2 separate regions of the Homo sapiens genome follow, and region 1 is linked to region 2. A link means that fine-mapping ties the variant in region 2 to the expression of a gene that starts in the linked region. Tissue or cell type: whole blood. Region 2 holds a variant in brackets; the other region holds the start of a gene. All regions are shown on one strand. Distances are from middle to middle.

What was found. PIP is the estimated chance that this variant, and not a neighbour inherited with it, causes the effect.
Region 1: it holds the start of CACNA1H, and the variant in region 2 is fine-mapped to the expression of CACNA1H in whole blood (TOPMed, PIP 0.91).

Annotation. Positions count from the first base shown.
Region 1 is chr16:1,148,842-1,156,841 of GRCh38, forward strand. It overlaps CACNA1H (calcium voltage-gated channel subunit alpha1 H), which reads left to right and starts at 4,265. Exons shown (of 35, transcript NM_021098.3): 1 at 4,265-4,629; 2 at 4,879-5,195. The coding sequence starts at 4,897. RefSeq lists enhancers at 3,164-3,744, 5,119-5,886.
Region 2 is chr16:1,258,767-1,266,766 of GRCh38, forward strand. TPSD1 (tryptase delta 1) reads left to right here. Exons shown (of 5, transcript NM_012217.3): 5 at 1-242. It also overlaps the pseudogene PRSS29P. Among named protein-coding and RNA genes, the nearest start is that of TPSD1, 6.7 kb to the left of the region's middle. The variant A/G (reference allele first, on the strand shown) is at 4,232.

The DNA.
Region 1 (8,000 bases), 110 kb before region 2:
GCTTCCCGCCCAGCACGGTCTCGAGGGTGGTGGATCCCAAAATTCCTTGGGATGCCAGCGCAGTCCCTTCAGCCACCCAGTCAGCAGGTATTTATTGGCACCTACTGGATGCTAGGCAGGAGCAAAGGACACTCACCTGCTCCCCACTCCAGGGTCTCGTGTCTCTGACTCCATGGCAGGACAAAGGTGAGAGCCCGCCATGCTTCGGGGCGACCTACCGGGCTCCGTCCTGCCCTTGAGTCTGCGGCTCAATGGGGCCCCACCGAGGCTGCTCCCAGGGAAGAAGCATTCTGGCCAGGCAGGGCCCGAGCCTGTGTCAGTGAGAGGCCCTGTTGCCTGCCCTGGAGGCCGATCCCTGCAGGGGCCAGTCTAGGCAGGGACGCCCCTCTTGTCTGCATATTCCCGGGGCCTGGCTTCCTGGCCGCGTGGGCAGCCTCCTTGGTGGCGGTGACCTGGGTCCCCGGCTCACAGGCCACACGTAGCAGCAGAACCCAGAGCTGGCTGGGAGAAGGGGTCTCACTGGACACCAGGCAGTGACCGCCACGGCTGGCTCTCCAGGCTTTGCCAGGAGAGGACTCTGTCCACCAGCCCTTGGTCCAGATTCTGGCAGACCAGCCACGGGCCCCACTGCTACAGGGAGCTGAGGACCAGTCAGGGCGTGCCTGTCCCATCGCTGCCATGCCGGGCCCCACTGCCGACGTCCTCCTTCCCCTGGGCAGCGTGGGGGATGCTGAAATCCGTGGGAGACCCCGAGAAGCCCACCCCACCTTCTTGGGTTCCGCCACATGATGGCTGAGCTAGGAGGTCACTTGTACTCTCTCCCCGCAGCTCTTTGTCAAAGAAAAGCATTGCCCTTAAAAACAACCCCGGCCAAAAAAAGAAAAAAGGAAACAGCGAAAACCAGAAGCAAATTTTCCAGAGACCTGGAGGATTAGAAACAATACATCTGAACGTTCTGGAGTTGAATTAAACCATCTCAATGCCGGTTTCCAACCGTCCTGGGCTTCTCTCTGACGCTCAGCGAAGGGCGCGCATCACGGCATCACCGCTCTCAGGACGATTTCCCGTCTCGTCTCACTGGACCGTCTGCCGTTTATGTCCTTTCTCGGTGGAGGCCCTCACGTCGCGTTGAGGTGGTCCCCGCTCCGGCTGCGTGAACGCGGCCTCAGCTGCCTCATCTTCCGGCAGATGGATGTTCAGAGCAGGGAGCATCCATGTTCCAGGCGTGCGGGCACCTGTCCCGCCGGACGTGGAGCGTGCAAGTCAGTGGGCAGCAGCCCAGGGGACACAGAGCCCCCAAGGACAAGGTGGGCACGCCATCCGATGGGCTGGAGTGAACGGAAAGCGGTGGGAGGCAGCCTCCGTCCCAGACCTTGAGCTGGAAAATGCCCGCCCGGGTGCTGGAGAGGCTCCAACTGGTCTGCAAATTGTCCGTGGGATGCCTGGCGACTGCACGCTTTCTCAGATTACAGACACTTTCTTTAAAAAAAATCTGTGGGCCGGGCGCGGTGACTTACGCCTGTAATCCCCATACTTTCAGAGTCTGAGGCAGGCGGATCACGAGGTCAGGAGTTCAAGACCAGCCTGGCCAACATGGCAAAACCCCGTCTCTTCTAAAAATATGAAAATTAGCTGGGCATGGTAATTACATGCCTGTAATCCCAGCTACACGGGAGGCTGAGGCAGGAGAATCGCTTGAACTGACACCAGGAGGCGGAGTTTGCAGTGAGCCGAGATCACGCCACTACACTCCAGCCTGTGATACAGAGCGAAACTATGTCTCAAAAAAAAAAAAAAAAAAAAGTCTGTTATAGAAGTCCGTGGTCTTTTTCCCTTCTGCCGACATCTGGAGGACAGAGTGTGGCCGGGAGGGCAACAGCTGCTGTGTTCAGAATTCCAAGATGCTTCCCAGGCGCCCTCTGGGTCTTCCCGCTCCCCGGCTCCCTCCGGCCTGCCACAGGGCCTTTGCATGGGCTGCCGTTGCTGCTGGAAAGAGCCTCTGCTCCTCTTCCGGCTGCCGGCTTGTCCTCACAGAGGCCCCGCCCTCGTCTATCTGGGCGCCCCCTGGCACTTAGTTTGGAAACTGTTTTCTCCTCCCCATAAGACGGAAGCTGCAGGCATGAGAACCGGGTCTGTCTGGTCACAGCCAAGGCACCTCCACCCTCCAACCGGGCCCCGCGCACTGTCCACCCTCAACTACCATTTGTCCAGCAAATCAACGACAGCCCCCAGCTAGAATCTGGAGCTTCAGTCTGTGGCTTTGCCTTAGCTTTAATTAATTAATTAATTAACTTATTATTTTTTTGAGGCAGAGTCCACTCTGTCACCCAGGCTGGAGTGCAGTGGCGTGATCTCGGCTCACTGCAACCTCTGCCTCCTGGGTTCAAGTGATTCTCCTCCCTCAGCATCCCGAGTAGCGGGGATTACAGGCATATGTCACCATGCCTGGCTAATTTTTGTATTTTAGTAGAGACGGGATTTCACCATGTTGGTCAGGCTGGTCTCGAACTCCTGACCTCAAGTGATCCACACACCTCGGCCTCCCAAAGTGCTGGGATTACAGGCGTGAGCCACTGCACCTGGCCCACCCTAACTTTTAACGAGCAGGGTGTTGATAAAAAGATCAGAGGTTCCAAGTGCCCTCTGGACCGGACTCCGATTCAGCGTTTGTGTCTCCCCACCTGCTCCAGCCTCCCTCCACGGATGTGTCCAAAGCACGGGGCTCTCCTAGGTCCTGCTCCTCTGTGGCTGGAACCTTAATTGGACCTTTGAAGGCCTAATTCACCAGCTGTGGCCCTCCATCGCTGAGTAGTTGCATTAAAATAGACTGAATGTTTTCCTTTTCTTGAAAGTTCCCGTATACAGGAGGAGGTGCTGCTGAAAGGACCTGTACCCCAGCCAGGCCCCCACACTCCTGCCTTCCAGTTCCTCGGCCCACCCCAGGTGCTGTGTGTCCTTCCGGGCCCCAGCTGGGCAGGGCCTCTTCTTCACCCTGCACGATGTGGCCCACCCGGGGGAGGTCCTGCTTCTCTGCTGCTCACCCGCAGGTGGGAAGCCACAGCCGCCCCACAGCCTCTCCGGGTCTGGGGTCTCAGGGTGCGCCCTGGAGCAGGGCCTCTTTGTCTGGAGGGAGAAGGGGTCTCTCCCACTACCAGGGGCCCCTTGTTGGCGGGCGTGCTGAGGTGCACACCTGGGAGCTCAAGCTCCCTGGTGCACAAAGCAGTGGTCCCAGAAGCAAAACCACCCTTCCAGCCTGGAGGGGTGCCCTGGGGGGAGTCAGGAGCCTGGGCACCTGCCCCCACCTGCTGGCACCTCGAGGTGCGGCCAGCCCTCCCTGGGACAAGGGCCTGGCCATCCCCAATGTCTGAAGGGTCCACCCCTTCCCGACCAAACCACTTGCTCTGAGGGTCCAGGGGAAGGCCCTTCTGCTGGCCTGGCTGAAGGAGCAGCTGCTGGCAGGGGGAAGGGGCCTGCACTTCTCCTCGGGGGCCCCTGGGTGAGTCTCGCTGAGGCAGCGGGGTTGGAGGATGCAGGAGCACCAGGCTGCCGTCCCCAGGGTCCCCCAGATCCCCACGCGGGAGGGGACCGGAGACGAGGACAAGTTCGCGGAAACTGCCCGTGCGTGTCGGGGAGAGATGCGAGTGCAGGAGCGCCCAGCCGTAAAGCACACCCCCGCCCGCCCCCGCGCCCCATCACACACGCGCGCGCGGGCACACCCGGGACACACACGCGGCGGGGAAGGGGCACGCAGCCTCTCGCCTTCCACGCCCGCCCGGTCCCCGCCCCTCCGCCGACCCGGGCCCGCGTCGTAGTGGGGGTGGGGGTGGGGGCGGCGGCGGCGCGCGCGGCAGCGCGAAGGGGGAGGGGGAGCCGGAGCGGGAGGGGGAGGGGCGCGGCATCGGCGGCTCGGCCGCCCCCGCAGTTGGGGGCAGGGAAGGACGTAGGTGCTCCCCCTCCCACCCCGCCGGAGCCTCCCGCGAGCGCCCCCTGGTGCACCCCACGCCCGGCATTGTTGGGGAGCACGAAAAGCGGGGAGCCCAGTGCGGGGGCGTGGAGGGGGCGCGGGCGGGGTCCAACTTCCCGCACCCGGGGGGGGGCGGGGCGCCGGGCGGCGACAGGGAGGGGTCGCTCGGGCGCGCGCGTCTCGGGCCGGGGGCGGATCCTCCCCAGTACCCCCCCGCCCGCCCCGCCCCCGGCCCCGCCCCGGCCACGCTGGCCCCGCCCCGGTCGCGCCGGCCCCGCCCCGCCCCGCCCCCCGCCGCTCAGCCCGAAGTTTCCTGCGCCGCGCGCGGACGGGCTCGAGGCTCGCTCGCTGCCTCACCGGTCCCCGGCCCGCGCCCCGCGCCCCGCGCCCCGCGCCCCGGCCTCACCCGTCCGCTCAGCGGCCTCCACGCCGCGCCGAGGCCGCCGCCGTCGCCTCCGCCGGGCGAGCCGGAGCCGGAGTCGAGCCGCGGCCGGGAGCCGGGCGGGCTGGGGACGCGGGCCGGGGGCGGAGGCGCTGGGGGCCGGGGCCGGGGCCGGGGGCGGAGGCGCTGGGGGCCGGGGCCGGGGCCGGGCGCCGAGCGGGGTCCGCGGTGACCGCGCCGCCCGGGCGATGCCCGCGGGGACGCCGCCGGCCAGCAGAGCGAGGTGAGACGCGGCGAGGACGCGCGCCCGGGACCCTCTTCAACTTGCGCGAAGCGGGCCGGGGAGCCCCTCGGGGTGGGGGTGGGGCCGCTGGAGGGAGGGAGGGGGCGGGCGGGGGCGGGGGGCGCGTTTGTCTCTAATAAGAAAAGACAAAGACATCCCGGCGGCCGCGGCTGTTCCCGCAGCTCCGCGCCGCGGGAGGCAGGGCGGGGGCGTCGCCACCGGCCCCGGGTCACCCCCTGTCCTCTGCAGGTGCTGCCGGCCGCCACCATGACCGAGGGCGCACGGGCCGCCGACGAGGTCCGGGTGCCCCTGGGCGCGCCGCCCCCTGGCCCTGCGGCGTTGGTGGGGGCGTCCCCGGAGAGCCCCGGGGCGCCGGGACGCGAGGCGGAGCGGGGGTCCGAGCTCGGCGTGTCACCCTCCGAGAGCCCGGCGGCCGAGCGCGGCGCGGAGCTGGGTGCCGACGAGGAGCAGCGCGTCCCGTACCCGGCCTTGGCGGCCACGGTCTTCTTCTGCCTCGGTCAGACCACGCGGCCGCGCAGCTGGTGCCTCCGGCTGGTCTGCAACCCATATCCTTCCCGGCCGGCGGGGGGCGGGGGGCGGGGGGCGTGGGGAGGGTGGGGGCCCGGGGCGCGGGACTCCCTCGGCATGCGCCCCCGCGCGCCCCTGTTGGTGGGACCTGGCGTGGGCCGGGCGCGCGGGGGTGCAGGGCAGGGGCTGGAGGACCGCGCTCTAATTTCTGAGAGTGGCGGGCTTGGGGGGCCACCGGGCGCCTCCGGACTCCCTTCCCCAGGGCCGGCTCCGGACGGAGAAGGTGGAAGCGAAGCGGTGAGGCCCCCGCGGGCTTGGAGGGGAGAGGAGTCGGGGAGGGAGGGAAGGTCCTAACTCCTCGCGGCCCCAAGGGTGTTGGCCAGGACGGGAATTTCCCCCTTGCCCACCCCTCACTGTCTGAAGGTCCTGCCCGAGGCAGGCCCCTCGCGGGGGAGGGGGAGGCCAGAGGAGCTGGAGTCAGGGGCGCAAAGTTTTCAGCCGGCGCCTGGTGGTTCCGAGTGCGTGGGGAGACCCGTGGGGCCTGTGAGCGCCGCCAGGGCCTTTTCCGTGGAGAGAGGCGGTGACGTTGGTTGTGAACTCGCTTTTTCTGGCTGAACTCGGTGGCGGGGCTGACTTAAGTCATGCGCAGCTGAAGGGTAGGGGGCAGGGAGGCAATTGGCACTGCCAAGGGGGAGTCTCATCTCCCCAGCCCCTTCCCTGGCTGGAGAGGAAGAGGCAGCCTCTTCTACTCTCGGCCAGAGCGGCACAGACTGCAGAGAAGGTTCCAGAACAGAGTTGGGTCAGGGCCAGGGGCATTTGTGGGATGTACACGGAGGTCCAGGGGGCCCCCCAGCAGGTGGCCTTGGGGGCGGGTCTCCGCGTGCCCTGAGAAGGGCCTTGCGTGGTGCCTGTGTCAGGGCCGGGTCTCCCCACCGGCCCTTCTGAGCCGGCAGCTGGGGTGGCCAGGCCGTGGCTTCTGCTCCGGGCCTGGGGACGGGTGGAGAGACCCTGCCCGCAGACGTCCCCCGTCGGAGGTGGGGAGACAGGCTGGCAGCAGGAGCGGCCTGTGTACACTTCCCTACCTTGTGTGTTTAACTGTACAAATATTAAACACGAAAGAGGAATCTGTACAAAAAAAGTCATAAAGCCCGTGTTTCTCCTTTCTCAAATCCAAACATCGAGTGAGTCAGACTCATCTCTGCTTGTAGAGGAAGAGGAGGCTGCTGTGGTCCCGGGGGCAGCCGGCCCCGGCCAGAGGGCTGCCTCGGAGCCCCACACCCGCTGCCCGGGCGGCCTAGGCCTCTGTAGCCTCAGGGTGGTGTCTGCGAGTAGGTGGGTGTCCCCGGGAGCCGAGGTGCAGGCCCGGCCTTGAAGAGCGGTTGTAGGTTTGTCTCCTCTCTAGAACCAAGGCGGGAGGTGGTCATGCCCCTTTGTTCTGGTAGGAGGTGACTGGGTGTGGGGTTAGTCCGGCGGTGCCAGCAGGCCATGGGGAAGGGTCTGGAAGGGACTGCATGGGTTGGAATGGGAGGCTGGCCCCGAGCCAAGGCCTGCGTTCCTTGTTTCCCAACGTGTGCAGACCGGAGAAGGGAAAGAGTTGAGCAAGCCTGGACTCTCTCCTCACAGCCCCGGGCCTGGCTGCCCCATCCCCAAGCAGGGCATGGACTCTCTTCACAGCCCCGGGCCTGGCTGTCCTGTCCCCTCTCGGCTGAGAGAGTTTTGGAGCCTGGCCCCGGTGTTCTGGGCTGGCTGTGTGTCTCAGGACTTCCAAGGAGGTTGTTTGCGTTGCTGTGTGCAGGGAAGGTGTTGGCTGGGTGGCCTCATGCAGGTGGGATGAGCTCTCCAGGGGGAGAGGAGGGCTGGGGCCAGCGGCATCACGTGACCCAAGCGCTGTCCCCCGGTGTCCTGAGGAGCTGTCCTTTTGGGCTTTGTGACCTGACAGGAGTATGCTCTGGTAGCCCGAGAGGGACTTGGGTGCTGTCCTGGTCTCGGGGGCTGGATGGTGCTCTCAGCCTGGGAAGAACAGAGCATGCCCCATCCCTGGTGTCCCCAGGGCTCTCTGGGCTGGGAGAGAATGGGTGGTCGGCCTCCTGCCCTTCGATGGCATCCCTTGCTTGGAGCACTGGGTCTGCCTGCGGCACGGCAGGACCCCCCACCCTCCTCGCCGCCAGCACCTCTGGCACGCTTTGGCTCTCCCAGCTCCAAACGCAGTGATGGGGGGTGTCCCCACTCCAGGAGACATGGGAAGCAGAGCTTAGACCCCAAGCTTGGTTCATTCTTGGCCCCGTGGAAACGCCCGTCGGTCAGGTGGAGTGGGCTTGTGGAGGCCCCGGCTGCATGGGGGTGGGTGTGACCACCAGCAGATGCCTGGCCTGTAGCGAGGGTGTGTGTCCTGGCGTCAGAGAGAACCTAAAATAAGCTGGCAGGCCTGGACAGGTGGGGGGATTGGCTGAGCCGGGGAAGCCCATGTGGGCCATGGCTGAGGCTTTCCAGAGCGCTTCAGATTCCTGGGAGTTGGGAGGGGGAGGCTTTGCAGGAGGCGGCAGGGGCGGTGGGCGACTGGTGTGGCTGGGGTGTGTCCCGTAGCAAGAGGGTGCTTCCTGGGCCTCAGCCTCCCCTCCCTCCGCAGGGCCCCGCATCCCTCCTGAAGAGGGTGAACTCTGAGAGGGAGGGATAATCGGATTTGCTCAGGGAACCCACACTCAGTAAAGTGACTCCATGCTCCCGGGGGTTGGCAGAGCCCCAGCTGCTGTCCGCCGGGCCCAGCCTGAGCCGGGGTTCAGTCAGCACAGGAACCTGGGGGAGGGCCCGCGTTTATCCCTGAACCTCTCCTGAACCCCGGGGTA
Region 2 (8,000 bases):
CCATCCTGAGCCCCCTCCCCTTTCTTGAGTCCCTCCTCCATCCTGAGCCCCCTCCCCTTTCTTGAGCCCCTCCTCCATCCTGAGCCCCCTCCTCCATCCTGCCCCCTCCTCCATCCTGAGCCTCCTCCCCAACCCTGAATCCGCCCCTCCCGGCCCCTCCGGCCCTCCCCTGCCCAGGCAGCTGGTGGTGGACGCCCATCCTCTCTAGTGCTGACTCTCATTAAAGTGCATGATGGAAAGCAGGTGTGGCCGTCACTGTGTTTCTGGTCGTGGGTGTCACGGGGGAGGAAGGGTCTAGGCATGTCTCGGGGCAGCTGCAGGAGCTGCGGGGTCCTGGACCCCGAGGCACAACTAGTCACTGTGGGGTGGGGCCTCCTCAGCTGCCCTGGTCGGCGAGTGGGGGCACAGGTGGCTCCCGGTTTGGAGGAGGAGCAATTAATTTCGGTCTCCTCCCGGCAGCGGGAGGTGATTTCTCCGTCAAACACGGAAGCCTGCCGTGGCCGCACTGAGGGTGTGAGTGCTCGGCTTCCCGTCTGGGTCTTGGTGTCCTGTGAGTCGCACAGATCAGGGGCTGCAAGGGAGGGACTCTGAACGCTGCCAGGGCAGAGCAGGGTCCAGCGGGGTCCGGCTGGGCGGGGACGTGGCTCGGAGGACTTGGGAATGGCACTGATCACTGCCCGCTGCCTGTCTTAGAAAGCCCAGGGAGCCAGGGCAGTGTGGGAGACCCAGGAGCCCCCTGGGAGGTGGCGGGGTGCAGCTGGACCCTGGACCCCCGCCGAGAGCGCCCTGGGACGCGGGCTGTGGTCACGTCCCCTGAGGCCCTGGGCTGTGTCCAGCAGGTCTCACCCTGGGTTTAGAGCAGCCGGCAACCTGGCCTGGGGCTCCCCGCTTTCTCCCAGGAAGGGAAGCATGAGGAGTGTCAGAGGCAGCCAGCTCCCCGGGAAAGAAAGGGCAGTGCCCTACCCGTCCACACCCCGGGAGTCTTTCCCCCACTGCCTTGAAGTGCAGTGACTCCCCCAGCTGGGGCGCCCCAACTGCTCTGCTCTGCCCCACTCTGGAAAGACCAGGGGCGTGGGAGAAAGTATAAACCCAGATGTGGTTTCTGCGCGGAGGCTCAGAGCCTGGGTTTGCCCTGAAGCCCTTGCCCTGTGGGGATCCTCCCGACCCTCATCCCCGGGAGTGACAGGCAGGGCGGGCGAGGGCAGGTGGGAGGGTGAAGGCCAGTCCCCGAGCCGCTCACCTGCAGAAACTTCTGCGGAGGAGCCAGGAGCCTCCCCAGACCCTCCCTTTTGACCTTCCACCTCTTCTCTGCCCTGCAGAGGTCCCGAAAGCACAGGGGCAGAGGAGGAAGCCCCTGGTTTTGGGGGCCCGGGGGAGCGGACGCCAGAACCACACATTGACCTGCAGCCTGGGGTCTGGGCGCTGAGTCTGCCTGGTCCAGGTGCAGAATGAACACGGGGCGGAGGAGGGACGGGGCCGTTCTGGGCGTCGCCTGCCCCTCAGAGCACTGCTCTCCCTGCCCACACTGGCCTGGCCCTTAGAGGAAGCGCCCCAGGAAGGCACCCCATGCGGAGGCTGGGCCTCTCGCGGCCGTCCACTCCCGTCTCGCCCTGCGTGGTGGTGTCTGAGCTCTGGGACCCATGGCGTCGCCCGGTACAGGAGGGAGTCGGGGCAGGAATCTAAACCTAACCACTGCCCTGGGAGGCCAGGGCCCGGGGACGCGGAGGCCCCAGCACAGGAGCAGCGTGCAGCGTGCCGGCCTGGGTCCCCCGAGCCCCAACCCACTGCGCCTCCATCTCCGGTGACTTTCCTGCCTCGGTTTCCTCATCTGGAACCTGGCATTGAAGCAGCACCTGTGAGTGTCGCCCCCAGAGGACAGGAAACACACTTCCACACAGAGCCCGGAGACGCACGTCCACACAGAGCCCGGAGACCCACGTCCACACACAGCCCGGAGACCCACATCCACACACAGCCCGGAGACCCACGTCCACATAGAGCCCAGAGACGCACGTCCACACAGAGCCCGGAGACGCATGTCCACACAGAGCCCGGAGACCCACGTCCACACACAGCCCGGAGACGCACGTCCACACAGAGCCCGGAGACCCACGTCCACACACAGCCCGGAGACGCACGTCTACACAGAGCCCAGAGACGCACGTCCACACAGAGCCCGGAGCATGAATGTTCTCAGCATCTTTATTACCATAGCCAAAATGTGGAGGCCTCCAACAGGAGGTGGCTGAGCAAACCGCACCTGGCTGCAGCTTGGAATGCAAATCCATCCCACAGAGACGCCACACACTCTGCTCTTGCTCTTTAATCAGACAGAGACGCAGCGAGGCCCCCACCCTCCCTTCCCCGGCCCCTTCCCCACCCCGGCATCAGGGAGGTCCTGGGCGCTGAGGAGCCAGAGAAGCCGGGCTCAAGACGGTGGCCTGCAGCGGAGGCCGAAGCGGAGATCGCTGGGAGGAGGAAGGTCCTGGTCCCTCCTCAGCCGACCCAGGTGGGAGCCCAGCCCAGCCTGCTCAGGGCAACTCCCCGACTTGCTGCAGGATCCAGAGCACGTAGATCTGGACGTGGGTGTAGACGCCGGGAAAGTCCCGCAGGGTACAGCCGTAGCCCCAGCTGACCACCCCCACCAGGCGCCAGGACCCCCGCAGCCTGCAGACCAGAGGGCCGCCGGAGTCACCCTGAGGAAGGGAAGGAAAGGGGTCACCGCTGAGCTCTGCGGTGGGAGCAGGGCAGGCAGGCAGGGCGGGCCGGGGGCACTCACGTAGCAGGAGTCTCGGCCCTCGCTGCCGGCACACAGCATGTCATCCAGGATGAGCTGCCGGTCGCCAGTGTGCCCTGAGGCGTTGCGGTAGGGCTGCTCACAGACGGCGTTCTCCAGCACCTGCACACTCGCCTGCTGCAGGCGGTAGGGCGGCGGCAGCGACTCTGGGGAGAGAGGTGACCCCGGCTGGCACAGCGGAGACGCCCCTGCCGTCAACCCAGCAGCCCCAGCACCTCCCCAGGTTGGGAAGGAAGGTGGCTCCCTTGTGGCCAAGGGCCCCTAGTCCCGGCCTGAACCTCCCAGCCTGAGCACGGTGTGTGGGACCCCAGGAGGTGGGAGGGCTCGTGTCTCCCTCTAAACTCCCAGGGCTCGCAGTCGGACGGACCAGAGAAAAGTGGAGGGATGAGTTTTTCTGTTTTTTTTCCTCCAAAAAATGCCTTTTGGTTTTGAGGTGTTTTCGTTTGCGGTGTTTTTTCTTTTCTTTTCTTTTTTAGAGATGGGGTCTTGCTATGTTGCCCAGGCTGGCCTCAAACTCCCCGGCTCAAGCCATTCTCCTGCCTCTGCCTCCCAAAGTGCTGGGATCACAGGTGTGAGCCACCGCACCCAGCAAAAAAATTTAAAAACCTTTCCTAAGTAGAAAAAAATGAGAAGTATTTTCCCCTCTGAATAATGAGTCTGGAGCTTGGTGTGGCCATTGGCACTCGCAGGACCCCCGAGTCTCTGGGCCCGGGCAGCACAGAGCTGTGGGGAAAAGCAGCCGGAGGTGCTGCATGGCGGTGAGCAGCTCCGTCTCTTCCCTTTCTGGAACTCACCCACCCCACCACCACCCCCGGAGCCCTGGAATGAGGCGTTTTGGGCCCACAGCCCGAGTCCTTCCCCAGCCTCCACCCAACACGCCCCGAACATCCTGATCGCTCCCCAGCCAGTCACCCAGCACTGGTCCTTCGGGGTGAGCTCCAGCGAGACCGGGGAGAGCTTGACCGTCCTGACATTAGCGGCTCAGATCATGGGGCTCACCAGCTGGAGCAGGGCCACATCCGCACCCAGCCCCGCAGTGACATAGTTGGGGTGGACGATGATCCGGCTGACGTTCAGCAGCCCCCGGCCCCCGTAGAGATACACGTCCCCAGCGTGGATCCGGTAGATGGACGGGTCGGTGTCCTTCCTGGGGGAGGACGGATCCAGGCTGCTCAGGGGTCCTGGTCTGGGGCGGCCCCACTCCCACCTCCCCTCATTGGGGTCCCAGGCCCGGGACTCACCAGAAAATGCAGTGGGCAGCAGTCAGCACCCACTGGGGGTGGATGAGGGAGCCCCCACAGATGTGCGCCCAGGAGGCCCAGTGGTAGCTGTAGACCCTCAGGCTGACCTGCCACGGCCACTTCCCCGGGGGGGCATTGTGGCCCCCCACAATGCCCACCAGGTCATTCTCTGGGACGGGCACTGGGAACAACC[A/G]AAGGAGGTCAGGGAGCCGGGCCCCACCCTCCTGCAATGCCAGGAGCTTCCAGGCCCTGCTCGACGAGGGGGTCAGCTCTCCGTCCTAGCCCAGTCCCTGAGGGTCCAGTGTGGGATTGGGCCAGGAGTCACCTGGGGTCTTGGACATGGAGCCCCCCCAGGCAGGGGAGGGTCAGGAATAGCAGCCACAGCATCTGCGCAGGGAGGAGAGGGCTGGCTGGAAAGAGCCAGGAGGGACCTGGGTCTGGAGGCCACAGGTGGCTGCCGGTGGTCAGTGTCCTCACCGTGGTCTGTGGCCACAGCTGCCCTCCCGGACCCTCCCGGAGCTGCTTTCTCTTCCTTGCAAAGGAAGTGGGTGGGGCTCAGTCAGACATTCTTTTCCCAGGGTGGGGGCAATAGCTCCTAGCCCAGGCTGTAAACAGGGTGACCATGAGGATAGGGGCCACCCCCAGCCCCTCGCATCCCCTCTGCTGGGCCAACAGAGGTCCTGTACCCGGGTTCCCTGTCTACACCAGTGGCTCCCACGGGTGACTATGTCCCCCAGGGGACATTTATGCTTGTCAGGGATATAGGGACACCACCCACATCTAGTGGGAAGAGGCCGGGGTTGGGGGGCTAAATGTCTACGGTGCACAGGATGGCCCCACTGCAGAGGGCCCCTGGCCCCAAATGCCCACAGTGCTCAGGTTGTCGCCATGCTACCCATTCTCATGGCCAGTGCCACAGAGGCCAAGGAAGCACCTAGTAACCAGCTCTCCCGCAGCCTCTCCTGCCACCCGGGACGGGACGGGCACTTGTACACACCTCCACGGGTGCAAAAGTATCAGCCAGAGGGCCTGCCAGAGGCACTTGGAGCCTGGGCCAGGGGACCCGCCTGCTCCATGGTGGCCGCCCCAGGCCCAGGCTCCAGTCCTTGGAGGGAGTTTGTGGAGCCCACACAGGGAGATCTTCTGGATGGGCTCCAGGAACCTGTTTTAATCAGTACAAACCTCAGGTTGCAGGAGGGGCACACTCTGCTCTGGGAGAGGGGCCGTCACCTGCTGGGAGTCTCAGAGGGTGGGGAGCTGCATTCTCAGGCCAGGGCCCAGCCCCCTGGGCCCCAGCTGCCCACTGCTGTGCCTTGGGGCTCCGGCAGCAAATGCCTGTTTCAGCCCAGGTGGCAGACACGTTCTGGGGCTGACAGGGGCAGCAGAGGCCGAGGCCCAACCCTACAGCCTCTCCTCCAGAAGTCTTGCTTTGCCATGAGATTGTAACCAGGGTGATTGTGGTGGTGTGGGAACACAAGGGAGCACTGTGAATGGGTGGGGGTGTGGGGGGTGCCTGTGTGTGTGTGCATACGTGTGTGGGCATGGGGTGTGCACATGCCTCTGTGTGCATGTATGTGTGTGCATGTGTGAGTATAAGTGTGTGCATGTGTGTAAGCATGTGAGTGTGCATGTGTGTGTGTGAGCATGTGTGTGCATGCATGTGTGCATGTATGTGTGGATGTGTGTGTGCCTGCATGTATGAGTGTGTGCATGTGTGTACGAGTGTGTGTGTATGAGTGTGTATATGGGTGTGTGCGTGTGTATATGTGTGTGTGCATGTGTGTATGAGTGTGTGCATGCTGCTGTTTGTGTTTGCGTGTGTGTGCGTGTGTTTGCATGTGTGTGAGTATAAGTGTAAGCATGTGTGTAAGTGTGGGTGTGTGCATGCGTGTATGAGTGTGTGTGTGCGTGTATGAGTGTGTGCATGTGTGTATGCGTGTGCATATGTAAGGATGTGTGCGTGTGTGCGCGTCAGTTTGCATGTGTTTGTGTGCCTGTGTGTGCGTATGAGTGTGCATGTGTGCATGTAAGCATGTGTGTGCATGCATGTATGTGTGTGCATGTGTATGAGTGTGCGCATGTGCGTGTGTGTGCATGTGAGTATGAAAGTGCGTGCATGTTTGAAAGCATGTGTGTGCGTGCATGTGAATGTGTGTGTGCATGTGTGTATGAATGTGTGCATGTAAGCATGTGCATACGTGATGTGTGCATGTGTGTGCATGTATGAGTGTGTGCATATGTGTGCATATGCATGTGTGTATGAGTGTGTGTCTGCATGCATGTGTGTGCATGCTTGTGAGTATGAGTGCATGTGTGCGTGTGTGCATGTATGTGTGTGCACGCATGTGTGTGCATGTGTGCATGCATCAGTGTGTGCATGCGTGTATGTGTGTGCATGCATGTATGAGTGAGTGTGCATTGAGTTTGTACATTGTGCGTGTGCATGTGTGTGTGCATGCGTGTATGAGTGTGTGTGTGTGCCCGCATGTCCTCCAGCTGGAGCAAATCCAGCCTTCTCCATGCTACCAGCAGCTTCCTGGTGATGCCTCAGGATTCCCCGGAGGCTGAGGGAGTGGGTCCCCGAGGCTGGGCCTGCAGCTGTGAAATCCTCTGCAGCCAGACTTCCACCTGCATGCCCAGCCCTGCACCTCCCTGCATGGGGAGGAGAGAAGCCCCAGGCTGCCCGAGATGGACTCCCAGCTGCCCCGTCCCTCCCTCCTGGCCGCATTCACCCATCATGGGCCAGGACCTCTGGCTCTGTGCCTTGGGAGCCGCTGCACCCCTCACTCCCAGAGGGCTTGGCCCACGCCCACTTCAAGCTGCTGCCCAGGCCCATGGAGTGGGCAGCTCCATCTGAAGATGCAAGAAGGAGACAGGAGAGCAGCTGGAGGATGGGAGGGCTGGGAGGCCAGCCAGGTGAGGCCAGGAGAGGCTGATGGGAGGGAAGCTCGGGTCTGGATCACCTGGGTTCCTTGTTTAGAGCCAGAGGGCCGAGGAGAAGAGAGGACAGCTGCTTAGCCTGGGGGCTTTCTTGGTGATTCCTCTCCCTCCCGGGACACGAGGATAATGTGGCAGCTGCGTCACGGGTGCAGGACTCTCCTGGTCCCCCACCCAGCTGCCGGGAGGCAGGGTCCAGGAGGCCCAGGTAAGGCGGGGACGGCACCAGCCTCGAACCAGCCAAGATCCGCGAAGCACAGCCAGTCTGAGGGCTGCGGGGCGAGCGTGGCCAGGGCTTCCAGGGAGGCCTGGAGCCTACAGTCAGGGGTCCTGGGCTGCGGGGGGCTGGGGGAGAGGCCGAGGACCCCTCGAGCCCCAGCTGAGTCCAGGTTGGGTGAACCAAGCTTGCCCGGGAGAGGCCAAGGAGCCCTTGGGCCCCAGCCGAGTCCAGGTTGGGTGAGCCAAGCTCGCCCTGTGCAGAGACAGGAACGTCGGATTCTCACGTGGAGGATGCAGGTGACACTTTCCTTTTATCTTTTATTCGGTGCTTTATACTTGGAATCAGATGTGAGGTCGGCCAAAATTGGGCATTGTTGTGTGGAGAAGGTTCTACAAGTTGCCCAGTGCTGTGTCTGCACAGGGAGGCTCCTACAGGACGTGCAGGTGAAGGAGGAAAATACCTCCGGGGTCAGGAGCCGGGTGCAGTGGTGAGTTGAACTGCATTTGCCGAAAAGATACGTTCAAGCCTGAGCCCCAGGAACTGTGAACGTCACTTGATTCCGAAATGAGGCTTTTGCAGACGTAATTGAGGATGTCAAGATGAGATCATTCTGGAATTAGAGTGGGCCCTAAATCCAATGACAGGCATCCTTATAAGAGAAAGGAGAGGGGGCCTGAGACCTAGAGCGGTGGAGGAAGGCCGGGGAAGGCAGGCAGGGATGGGAGTGATGTGGCTGCAAGCCAAGGACAGCCAGCAGCGCCGGACACGAGGAGACAGGCATGGAGCGGCCCCTCCCTCCAAGCCT